Linked DNA regions of Homo sapiens: region 1 is linked to region 2. Evidence: fine-mapped expression QTL. A gene starts in region 2. The other region holds a variant in brackets. All regions are shown on one strand. Distances are from middle to middle.

Region 1 (5,369 bases), 23 kb before region 2:
GTCTGAATGTGAGAAAAAGCATGAGTAGGAGAGCAGGCCTTCTCATAAAGACTCTGAGAGACAAGACACTGATCTTACGCAAAAACAGTGAAAACAAAGAAATGTTCGTTTAAAACAATGTTTTCCTAAATAGCAAAAAAAAGAAAAAAAAAGAAAAGAAAAAGCCCTTCAATGTCAAATCAAAATACATGAACTGGTACAAACCAACACTAGGGGGCTGTGTGCATGTGTGTACCTGTATGTGTGGGTACGTGCATGTGTGTGTGCATGTGTGTACATGCATGTGTGTGCATGTGCGTGTATGTGCGTGTACACAGTAAGCAGCACTGTTACAGGCTGACTTGGAAATTGTGCTTCTTCTTGGAATCCTCCATACAACCATATGCAGAAATTTGGGCAGAGATTTAGATCCAAATATGTTTAATGCAATAATAATTTCAGAGTAAATTTAAAATCCCTGCTGTTATGAGCAAGGGCTCCCTAACTTCTGTAGGAGCACACAGTGGAGACCGTGCAGCCTTATTCAGTCATCAACAAACCCTGTGACCCCCACTCTATTCCTCTGGAGCTCCAGTTTCTGAGGACATGGCAAGGACAGGACAGGGACTAAGAAGCAGACATTTGGAAGAGTGCCTGTCCCCTTGTGAGGGTGGCTGCTTTTTCCCACGCAGCCCCGTCCCCTGCAGTCCCATCTCCCTCAGGCTCCACTTCCCCTTTGACCAGGAGAGCCGAGGCATGGCCTTCACCCCCTGCCTACAAGGTCTTGGAGGGGCCTGTCCCCAACTCACCAGCAGACACTGTGCCTCCCCTGGGGACTGTACAGTGACACCTGTCAAATCTGCCGGCTCCTGGCTTTCCATTTGCTGCTCAGAGACGAAAGTGGACAGCGAGTCTGCGTTGCTCAGAATCTCGTTGTGAGCATTGTCCTCAGCCCCAGGCCCTCGTAGGAGACCCAAGCGCCAGAAACACACCTTAGGAAGGCAAAGAGCCAACTCAGAAGCCCACACCCAGGGCTCCCCACGGGGTCCGTAGGGCACGGCTGGACCTGCTGCCACCACCCCCTCCCAGTGAGGTCACTCCAGGAAGTCCATGCTCAGCACATCCAGGACCTGCTGCTGGGGCCAGGCCCTGGTGCTGGGCTTGGGGGCTCACCCCATCCCCAGGGTACAGGCTGTGGGGTAAGGGTCTCACCTGGGCTGTAGGAAGCACAGGGCTACAGAATGGCCCACCAGCCTGTATGATGCTCAAAAGGGCCTGTGTCCCCCATAGTCAATGCACAGCATCCAGGCCACTTCAGAGACTCAGGGCAGCCATGAGAGCACGGGGACCCACCCACCTGGACTACACTGTGGGCAAGAAGCAGTTCCTGAGCCCCTGATGCCCCCAGCTCCTGGAGAAATCAACTCACCCTGTCCATGCACTTGGGGTCCCCTCCACAACCTAGAAGAGAAGACGGTTCCCTTAGTGGCCAGGGAGGGGCCCATGCAGCACTCCTTCTTAGAGGGCAGTGTTGGGCAGGGGTGGGCTGGGGGCTGGGACACTGGACAAAGATCCCCGGGCCTGGGGATCCACATGAGGCCCTGCTAACTCGGGAGATCCTTCAGGAGCGGGGAGCATAAAGGGAAGTAGGCTAAAAACAAACAAGTGGAACATCACTGTTTTCTGCTCTGTGTTTTGCTCTGAACAAAGCTACATAAATCCCACAACCACTTCTCGTCTCGACTCTTGTCATCCAGTTGAGGAGCTGACTGCCCCCTGCCTGGATGGGCCTGACCAGTGGAGGAACTGGCCCTGCCTTCCCAGACTTGGCTGGGAGATGAGGGGACCCCCAGCCTTGGGAGAGGGACGGATGACACCAGGGCCCTAGGGTTGCACAGGATGGGAGGATGGGGGGTGATCACAAGGAGGAAGATAGAGCCCGGCCAGAGACACTAGGACTTGGGGCAGGGGTGAGCGTTTCTGTCTGTGGGAACAGAAGAAGGCAGGGCAGAGAGTGCCCAGAGCCCTTGCCCTCAGCCAGCACCTACCTGAGCCGATGCAACAACAGACAATCAGCACAGCCACCAACAGCAACGGAACAACCAAAGTCACAACCAAAATCACCCATATATTATGTCCATTGCCTGAGAAAAGACAGGAAAAGACAGGAGTCTCGGGCTGCTGGTCCCTGTCTCCTCTGCAGCTGGGGCTTCCCCAG[T/C]GGGCTTTGTACCTGATTCTTTGTGGACACACTCGATGTCACTCCAGGGCGTACAATCCTTGACCTTGACCATCCCTCTGGGGCACCTGGGTACACACAGGGAGGGAGGGGGGGGACTCTTGATGGAAAGCTGGCCAGGTGGGATGAAAGAGGAGCCACTCTCCCTGCCCAATGTCCCTGAGAAGGCGTCAGGGGAAGGATAGTCTCCTCGTATCTGCAGGGGGTCCCCCTATGCTCCCTTGTTTAGGCTGGGGAAGGGTCTGAGCATGCACACTTTACCCCCTTGGCCTCCCTGCTCTGGGGTCAGAGCTGCAGTTCCAGGAGCCTTCTGTGCTGGGCACACACTAATCTTCCCTGGGCTGCAGGGGAGGCCTGCGTTAGGAGGAATCACACTCCAGGGGAAGATCACAAGCCCGTGTGGCCACAAGCTGAGCCCCTTCCTCCAGTTAACCCACAGTACAAGTGAGCCCTCGCCCCCACCTGTCTGCTGGTTCCTCTCAATCACAGCAAACACTGGAGGACCAGAGAAGAGCAATTACTCTTTGCTTCCAAAACCAAAATAGGAAAAAGACAGGACTTATTGAGAAATCAGGGGCCAGGGGTGAGGCTGGCTGGGTGGGCTCAGGTCCTCATGGGAACTTGAAGGAGCTCCACCCATGGCCTTATTATGATTTTTGCGGGCTGTGGGCATTTCTGTCTTCTTGAATTAAAAGCAAATATTAAAAATTACATTTTATGACTCAATTTGTTTAAATATAAATATAACCCCAGCTGGATTCTATACCATTATTTTCTTATGATTTCAAGATAAAATATTTCATGTACCTCTGTTGTGGGCCCTAAGTCATGGCCTCCTGTGCCTAGTGAACAAGTCAGCCTGGCCAAGGGGACTAGTGCTGGGGAGGGGTGAGAAGGGGCCACTGCAGGGGACAGGGGTGGGGACAGGCAGATGGACCAGGAGGGGCAGGTTGCAGGCTCAGGAGACGCCACAGGCTCAGGGACACCTATGGGGGTGGAGGCACCATGGGGTCAGGGCTGATAGATACGGGTACAAGGAGACTCGGGTCTTTTTAGGGTTCCTTGCTTCTGTGGGTTCTTTGAGGCTGCTGGGAGCCCCTTGGCTGTTGTCTCACCCTCTGCTGCACTTCCGGCACATCTCAGCAGAATTGTCATTCCGGAAAGTTCCTGGTTTGCACTGACATGCTGTGTTCCTGGTCGTGGTGCAGGGACTTCTCTCTTCTTCATCTGATGACAGAGTACAAGGTTTTGGGAATGTGTTTCCCTGACGTGTCCCTTGACCTTTCCTCACCACCCCAACTCCCTCCCCCTCAGCTCAGCTCAACTCAGTTTGCCAAGGAGTTCTGAGGGCCAGATTCTGCACCAGCACACTCGGGCTCACACAGGACACCCACCCTTCAGCTGTCACCAACACTTGGAGTCATACAAAAGGACCATGATTCATTATTTATTACATCAGATTAGGGAAAAAGCACCATTTAGATCGCATGGTCAGTAGCAAAGGAGGCACATGGTATGTGAGAGAGTCTGCAAGAAGAGGAGCCCTTGGGTGACTTCCCAAAAACCCAGCCTGCTGAGGAAGAGGGAGGCGCCTGAGAAACTGAAGGCTGAGTGAGCCTGAGAACCTGCCAGGAGCACACAGCCCAGGGGGAGCGTGGCCCCAGAGCAGACCCGTACCACCGCTGAAACTCAGCCCTGTCCACTCAGCCAGGCCTTCTTTGTGCTGTAATGATGCCCCTACCCTCTTGGAGCTGATAGTTTGCACTACCAGGTGGCATGCATTATAAAAATGATTTCTTTCTGTTTCATTTTATGGACCTAAGACATAACCATGGAACAGGGTATGATGAAGACCAAGTTGGGCTGGAACTTGGTTCCCTGACTCACATTGGCTACCACTCCCACCTCACTGCCCCTCACTCCACCTCTGGACAAGAGGTCCACACATTCTGTACCTGATTTACAAGCTGTACATGGGAGGCAAGCAAACAAATTGTTGGAAGCATTGGTGTAACCCACACCCTCTGTGCACCGGTTACAGGCTCCAGGATGTTCTGATCTATGAGATCCTGGGAAGGGAGAGAAAAGCCAATGAATGAATTGCCACAGAGTTCCCAGAGGATCGTGGCGGTGGCTAGGAAACTCTTCTTTTGGCCATCAGTAGACCCCAGACAGAGAAATCCCATCTTCTTGGCTTGGTCTTGTCGTCAATTCTGCATCTATACACACCTCTGACTGGCGCTGCTGACAGAAATACAATACAAACCACATGCAAAATTCAAATTCTATGAGAGCCATATTAAAATAGTAAAAAGAGAATGAGGTCAAATTAATTTTAACAATGTACTTTTTGGACCTAAAATATCCAAAACATTAGCATTTCAACATGTAAACAAGATAAAACATTGAGATATTTTCTTTTATTTTGAATACTAAGTGTTCGAAACCCAGAGTGTATTTTTCACTCACTGCACATCTCAATTCAAAGTGGCTGTGTTTTAAGTGATTAATGGCCACATAGGCCTAGAGACCAGGGCAATGCCACCTGCATCCCTGGAAACTCACAAAAAGTCCTAATCCCTGCCCTCAGTGAGCTCTTGGTCAGTAGAAGGTACAAACAGGCGCAGAAACAATACAGCGATGAGGGGAAGGCTTCAGATACAGCCCATGCCACCTGCCATGGGAGGAAAATGGAAGGAAAAAGGGTCCTCCCTATACAGAGTCAAAGAATGATCCACAGAAAGAAGGCCTACCTCATGCTGCCCTGGATTGCAGAGGGTCTCCAGGCACTGAGGTGACAGCCTGCAGGAGCTGTCGCCAGCGGGAGCCCATGTCTGGAGGCTCGACCTTCACCTCCAGGGCTTCGCCCCTTCAGGTGACCTCACTCTCCCCTTTCAGTGCCCATTTATTTATCCCTCTCCTCTGATTCATATTTACTGATATTGAAAGATACTCTTAGAAAACCCAAACTGTGGAAAAAAAACTTCCTTGATAATGTGTTACGATGACGACACTACCAATTATAAAAATGTGGTTATTGAGTAATAGTGCTGGGGCAACTAAGGTTACTACTGAAAAATAATAAAGGCTTTTTTTTTTTTTTGAGATGGAGTCTCGCTCTCTCACCAGGCTGGAGTTCAGTGGCGTGATCTTG
Region 2 (5,369 bases):
GCGAGATCTCGGCTCACTGCAAGCTCTGCCTCCCGGGTTCACGCCATTCTCCTGCCTCAGCCTCCCGAGTAGCTGGGACTACAGGCGCCCGCCACCGTGCCTGGCTAATTTTTTTCAATTTTTAGTAGAGACGGGGTTTCACCGTGTTAGCCAGGATGGTCTGGATCTCCTGACCTCGTGATCCACCTGTCTCGGCCTCCCAAAGTGCTGGGATTACAGGCGTTAGCCACCGCACCCGGCCACACTTTTGTATTCTTGGTGTGAGAGTAAAACTGGCACAATCTTCTCCCGAAGTACAATTTAGCAATATCCAAACAAAATTCTACATTGATGAGCTCATGTACCTAAAAATTCCTCTTCTAAAGGGCTGCCCGATACTTCAGGGAACATTGACATATGGACATATGACACATACAAGGGTTCTCACTACAATGCTGCTGGAATTAGAAAAAACAAAAGCAGGACATAATGTTAACAATTGCCCATGGGATGGAAGATTAAAATTAACTGTGGTTCACGCCATGTGTTTCACCCATGCACTAAATATTATGATGCTGTTAAAAAGAATGAGATACTTGCATGTACTGATAGAAAACATCCAATGCGATTTGTTCTTCAGTCAGAATTTTAAAAGTTAAGGTGCCTATAAATGCACAGGAAGAAGGCTGAGGGATGGTGGGATGAGAGGGTCCTGTGGGATGGCAGAAGGCCTTGGTGTCTGCTACGGGTCCTTTGTCCCTGCCAGGGCTCACGTTGAAATCTGAACCGTAATGTAGCTGGTGGGGCCTGTTGGGGTTTGGGGTGGATCCCTCATGAAAGGCTTGGTGCCATAACCGCCCCCTCCCACATTCCCCCAGGAGTTGTCAATCTTAGTTCCCCATGACACCTGGTTGTTAGAATGAACCTGGCCCCTCCCCGTCTCCCTTCCGGATCTCATCCCCCTCCTCCTGCCATCCTCCCCACCCCTTCCCCTGATGGGCAGAATCCAGCTGTCCTTCCCCTTCACCACCAGTGGAAGTTTCCTGAGGCCTCACCAGAGGCAGATGCTGGTGGCATGCTTCTTGTACAGCCTGCAGAACCATGTGCCAAATAAGCCTCTTTTAAAATTATCCAGCGTCAAGTTTTCTTTTTTATTTTTTTTCTTTTCCGAAACGGAGTCTCCCTCTGTCGCCCAGGCTGGAGTGCAGTGGCGTGGTCTCGGCTCACTGGAAGCTCCGCCTCCCAGGTTCACGCCATTCTCCCGCCTCAGCCTCCCGAGTAGCTGGGACTACAGGCGGCCACCACCACGCCTGGCTAATTTTTTGTATTTTTAATAGAGACGGGGTTTCACCGTGTTGGCCAGGATCGTCTCGATCTCCTGACCTCGTGATCCGCCCGCCTCGGCCTCCCAGAGTGCTGGGATTACAGGCGTGAGCCACCGCGCCTGGCCTCAAGTATTCTTTTATAGCCACACCAACGGACTGTGACATTTCCAAAACCACCAAATTCAGATGTTTCACCTTGTCTATACAGGTGAGCCCTACATCCACCTGGAATCGCACTAGCCTGTCAAAAAGAAAGCCATTTAATAAGCGTATTAAAAATAAGAGTCAAACGTGGGTTCCACCTAACATAAACTGACGTTTAAAACATAAATTCTGTAATTATTTGGAGATTTCAAAATGCTATTGGATTCCTGGATTTTGTTTAGTTTGTTAAACAAAAACACGTAAAATTTCCTGACACTTGTAAGACTGGTTTATCCTTCAGGTACTTAGCTTTCGTTTTGTTTTTCCTTAACATAGAAGGAATCTGGATGAGAACAATTGGTAGAGCCTTAATGAACTTGAAAGAGAACTGAAGGCATTGGCATTTTTCCAGACTGAGTGATTGCTTTCACAGGAAACGCTGCCTCCTGAAGGAAGGGCGTGCCCCGCTCCTGGCTGCCTGCCTCGTGGTGGTCAATTCGCTGCCCTGTACCTGTTGATGCGCAAGAAAGTGGCTGGAAGGAAACTGCTGCCGGTGTGCTCAGTGGACTCGAAACGGAAGACAACGAGCAGAGGAGAGAAAGTTACTTTTTCCTGCCGGGCTGCGTGTTTAACCAATTTGTCTAAGAAAAGAAGGATGGAGGGCCGGGCGCGGTGGCTCACGCCTGTAATCCCAGCACTTTGGGAGGCCGAGGCGGGCGGATTTGGCTAACACAGTGAAACCCCGTGACTACTAAAAATACAAAAAATTAGCCGGGCGTGGTGGCAGGAGCCTGTACTCCCAGCTACTCGGGAGGCTGAGGCAGGAGAATCGCTTGAACCAGGAAGGCGGAGCTTGCAGTGAGCCGAGATCGCGCCACTACACTCCAGCCTGGGCGACAGAGAGAGACTCCGTTTCAAAAAAAAAAAAAAAAAAAAAAAGAAGAGAAGAAAAGAAGGACGGGGGTGGGGAGGGAATCAGGGAGTGGGGAGAATGGCGCTCCCCTTCACGCAGCTGGTGTGGCTGGGAGTTGGCTTGGAAGTTTACACACTTGAGCTCTATCGATTCCGAAACTTCCCGATACATCGTGAGGTGTGGGCAGGAGGGAGACGCGCCAGGCAGCAGCCAACGGGGTGGAGTCCCCGGGCCCAGCCTCCTGCGGGAGGGGGCTCTGCTGCCTCCAGGCCCGGGTCGCTCCTGCCTGGCCCCGGGGACCCCGTTCTTCCTCCGACTCCGACGACGGGCTCCTCCTGCCCGGACATGCCCCGCCACAAGTGACCCGGGCCAGGCACCCCCGCCGCGTCCCCCTCTCTCTCTGCCCCCTCCCGGTGCCAGGCGCGCTTTTCCCCAGGCAGGACCGCGGTGGGGACTCACCTGCAGCAGGACCCCGACGACGACAAACTTGAAGGTCTTGTGGACCCGGAGCCGAGGGCTGGCTTCCCGCGCCGGCCTGGGTCCTGGGGCGCGCCCTGCCCGGGCCCGGGCACTGGGTCCGTGCTGTCCCATGGAGGTAGGGAGCGCTCCTCGGCCCCCGCCTCGTGGTTCAATCCTCCCCGCGGAAGAGCCCCACACTTTGCTGGGTGTGGCCGCGGCTGCCTCTGTCCCACTCGCTGCGCTCCCGGGATTCGGAGTCACTGCCAGGAACGCACCTAGATGTACTCTAGCTGGTGGTGGCGCCATCCTGCCAGGTCAATCCAAGAAGCAGCGTGCTTGGCTATGACAAGACAGAACTTCGCATTCGGAGTTCAGGGCACCCCTGACCCCGCCCCCTTTTCGGGGCACCTGCGGCTCCTGTTGGCTAACCCTGAACTTCCTTCCTCTGTGACCGCCCTTGCCGCTCTCAGCTTCTGTTCCTCAACCACGGCCGCCGCGTGGATGCCGCTGCATTCGGAGTCGTTTTGCCACTTGGTCCCAGCGCCAGGCTTCTCGGTCGGGAGTTGACCTCAGCCTTTCTGTGACCCAGTTCCTGGCACCCAGCAGGCGCTCGGTGGACGGATGGGTGGCGGAATGAAGGACACAGAGGCCACTGCGGGGTCTGGCCTCTAAGAGGCTTTTACGGCCTCCTCCGTCACTACCGGGCGAGTGATTCAGCCTGCCTTTTTTTTTTTTTTTTTTTTTTGAGATGGAGTCAAGCTCTGTCGCCCAGGCTGGAGTGCAGTGGCACGATCTCGGCTCACTGCAACCTCCGCCTCCCAGGTTCAAGCGATTTTCCTGCCTCAGCCTCCTGAGTAACTGGGATTACAGGTGCCCGCCACCACGTCCGGCTAATTTTTTTTCTATTTTTAGTAGAGACGGGGGTTTCACTGTTTTGGCCAGGCTGGTCTCGAGCTCCTGATCTCGTGATCCGCCCGCTTCGGCCTTACAAAGTGCTGGGATTACAAGCGTGAGCCACCGTGCCCGGCTCATCCTGCTTTTGGTTTCAGGTCTCCATGCCAGTGAAATGTCACCTCAACTCCACCGTCCCTGGTGTCAGGCAAGCCCGAGGGACCCAATTCTGCCTTTCTTCTGGATTTTCCTAACCTGTTAAGAGTCTTGAAAGTCCTTAAACCACGGGAGACTATCTGGCACATGACACGGGATGAGACTTGGTGGGGGTCCCACGGGGGACAGGTCCTTCCAGCGGTTCCTCTGCACCCAGCGCTGCACGGGCATGGGGCGTGGGTAATCAGCCTCCCGAAAGCCACGCGAGTCACGGTCCTGCCTGCGAAGAACTCCCAGGGCGACCTTGGGGCTGAGGAGTGGGTAAGAGAAAGGGGGCGCTGATTGATGTTCATTTTTCTCCATATTTTAATGGTGTTCCGGTACCATTTGTTGAAAAGACTCTTTTCGACCGGGCGCGGTGGCTCACGCCTGTAATCCCAGCACTTTGGGAGGCCGAGGCGGGCGGATCACCTGAGGTCAGGAGTTCGAGACCAGCCTGACCGACATGGAGAAACGCAGCCTCTACTAAAAATACAAAATTAGCGGGGCGTGGTGGCGGATGCCTGTAATCCCAGCCACTCGGGAGACTGAGGCAGGAGAATCGCTTGAACCCGGGAGGCAGAGGCTGCGGGGAGCCGAGATGGAGCCATTGCGCTCCAGCCTGGGCCACAAGAGGGAAACTCCGTCTCAAAAAAAAAAAAAAAAAAGACTTTTTTTCCTTATCCAATAGCCTTATCACTTTTGTTGAAATTAAATTGACCATATATATGTATGTGTCCATTTCCGGACTCTATTCTGTTCCGTTTATTTATTTGGCTATTCTCATGCTAATTACCACATTGTCCTAATTATGAGCTGTATAGTCAGTCTTGAAATCAGGCAGTTCAAGTCCTCCCCCTACTACCCACCTCCCAAATGGTTTGCATTTCCGTATATATTAAATATAGAATAATTTTTTTCAGTTAAAAAAGCCTACTGGAATTTTAATTGGGATTGCATTGAATGTAGAGATGAATGAGAATAATTGACATTTTAACAATTTTGAGTCTTTCAATCCATGAAATTTATTTATTTAGATATTTGTTACTTAAGCTTGACAATATTTTGCAAACTTTCCATGTACAAATCTTTCATATCTTTTGTAAACATATTTCTAACTATTTTTGTTACTATTGCTAATGGAATTGATTTAGCTTCCCTTATTTTCAAATTGTTTGTTGCAACTATACAGAAATACAGTTGATTTTTGTCCATCGGCCTTGTATGCTATGGTACTGCTAAATTGATATATTTCTAGTTGTTATTTTATAGATTATTTAGGATTTTCTATGTAAGCAATCCTATTGTCAGTAACCAAAAACTGTCTCAGTTCTTCCTTTCCAATCTTTATACCTTCTATTCATCTTTGTTGCTGAATTGCCCTGGATAGGATTTCCAGTACAATGTTAAATAGAAATAGTTAAAGCAGACATGCTTATCTTATTCCATATCTTAGAACACAT

The links.
Region 1: its variant is fine-mapped to the expression of TNFRSF10A in whole blood (TOPMed, PIP above 0.99).

Annotation. Positions count from the first base shown.
Region 1 is chr8:23,198,478-23,203,846 of GRCh38, forward strand. It overlaps TNFRSF10A (TNF receptor superfamily member 10a), which reads right to left. Exons shown (of 10, transcript NM_003844.4): 3 at 4,171-4,284; 4 at 3,331-3,442; 5 at 2,210-2,283; 6 at 2,028-2,123; 7 at 1,409-1,440; 8 at 789-971. Among named protein-coding and RNA genes, the nearest start is that of TNFRSF10A, 24 kb to the right of the region's middle. The variant T/C (reference allele first, on the strand shown) is at 2,198.
Region 2 is chr8:23,221,936-23,227,304 of GRCh38, forward strand. TNFRSF10A (TNF receptor superfamily member 10a) reads right to left here and starts at 3,167. Exons shown (of 10, transcript NM_003844.4): 1 at 2,821-3,167. The coding sequence starts at 3,126. TNFRSF10A-DT (TNFRSF10A divergent transcript) reads left to right here and starts at 3,286. Exons shown (of 3, transcript NR_033928.1): 1 at 3,286-4,188. RefSeq lists promoters at 2,659-3,695, 3,124-4,929, 3,124-3,777, a cis regulatory region at 2,659-2,738, silencers at 2,760-3,009, 3,177-3,368 and an enhancer at 3,420-3,559.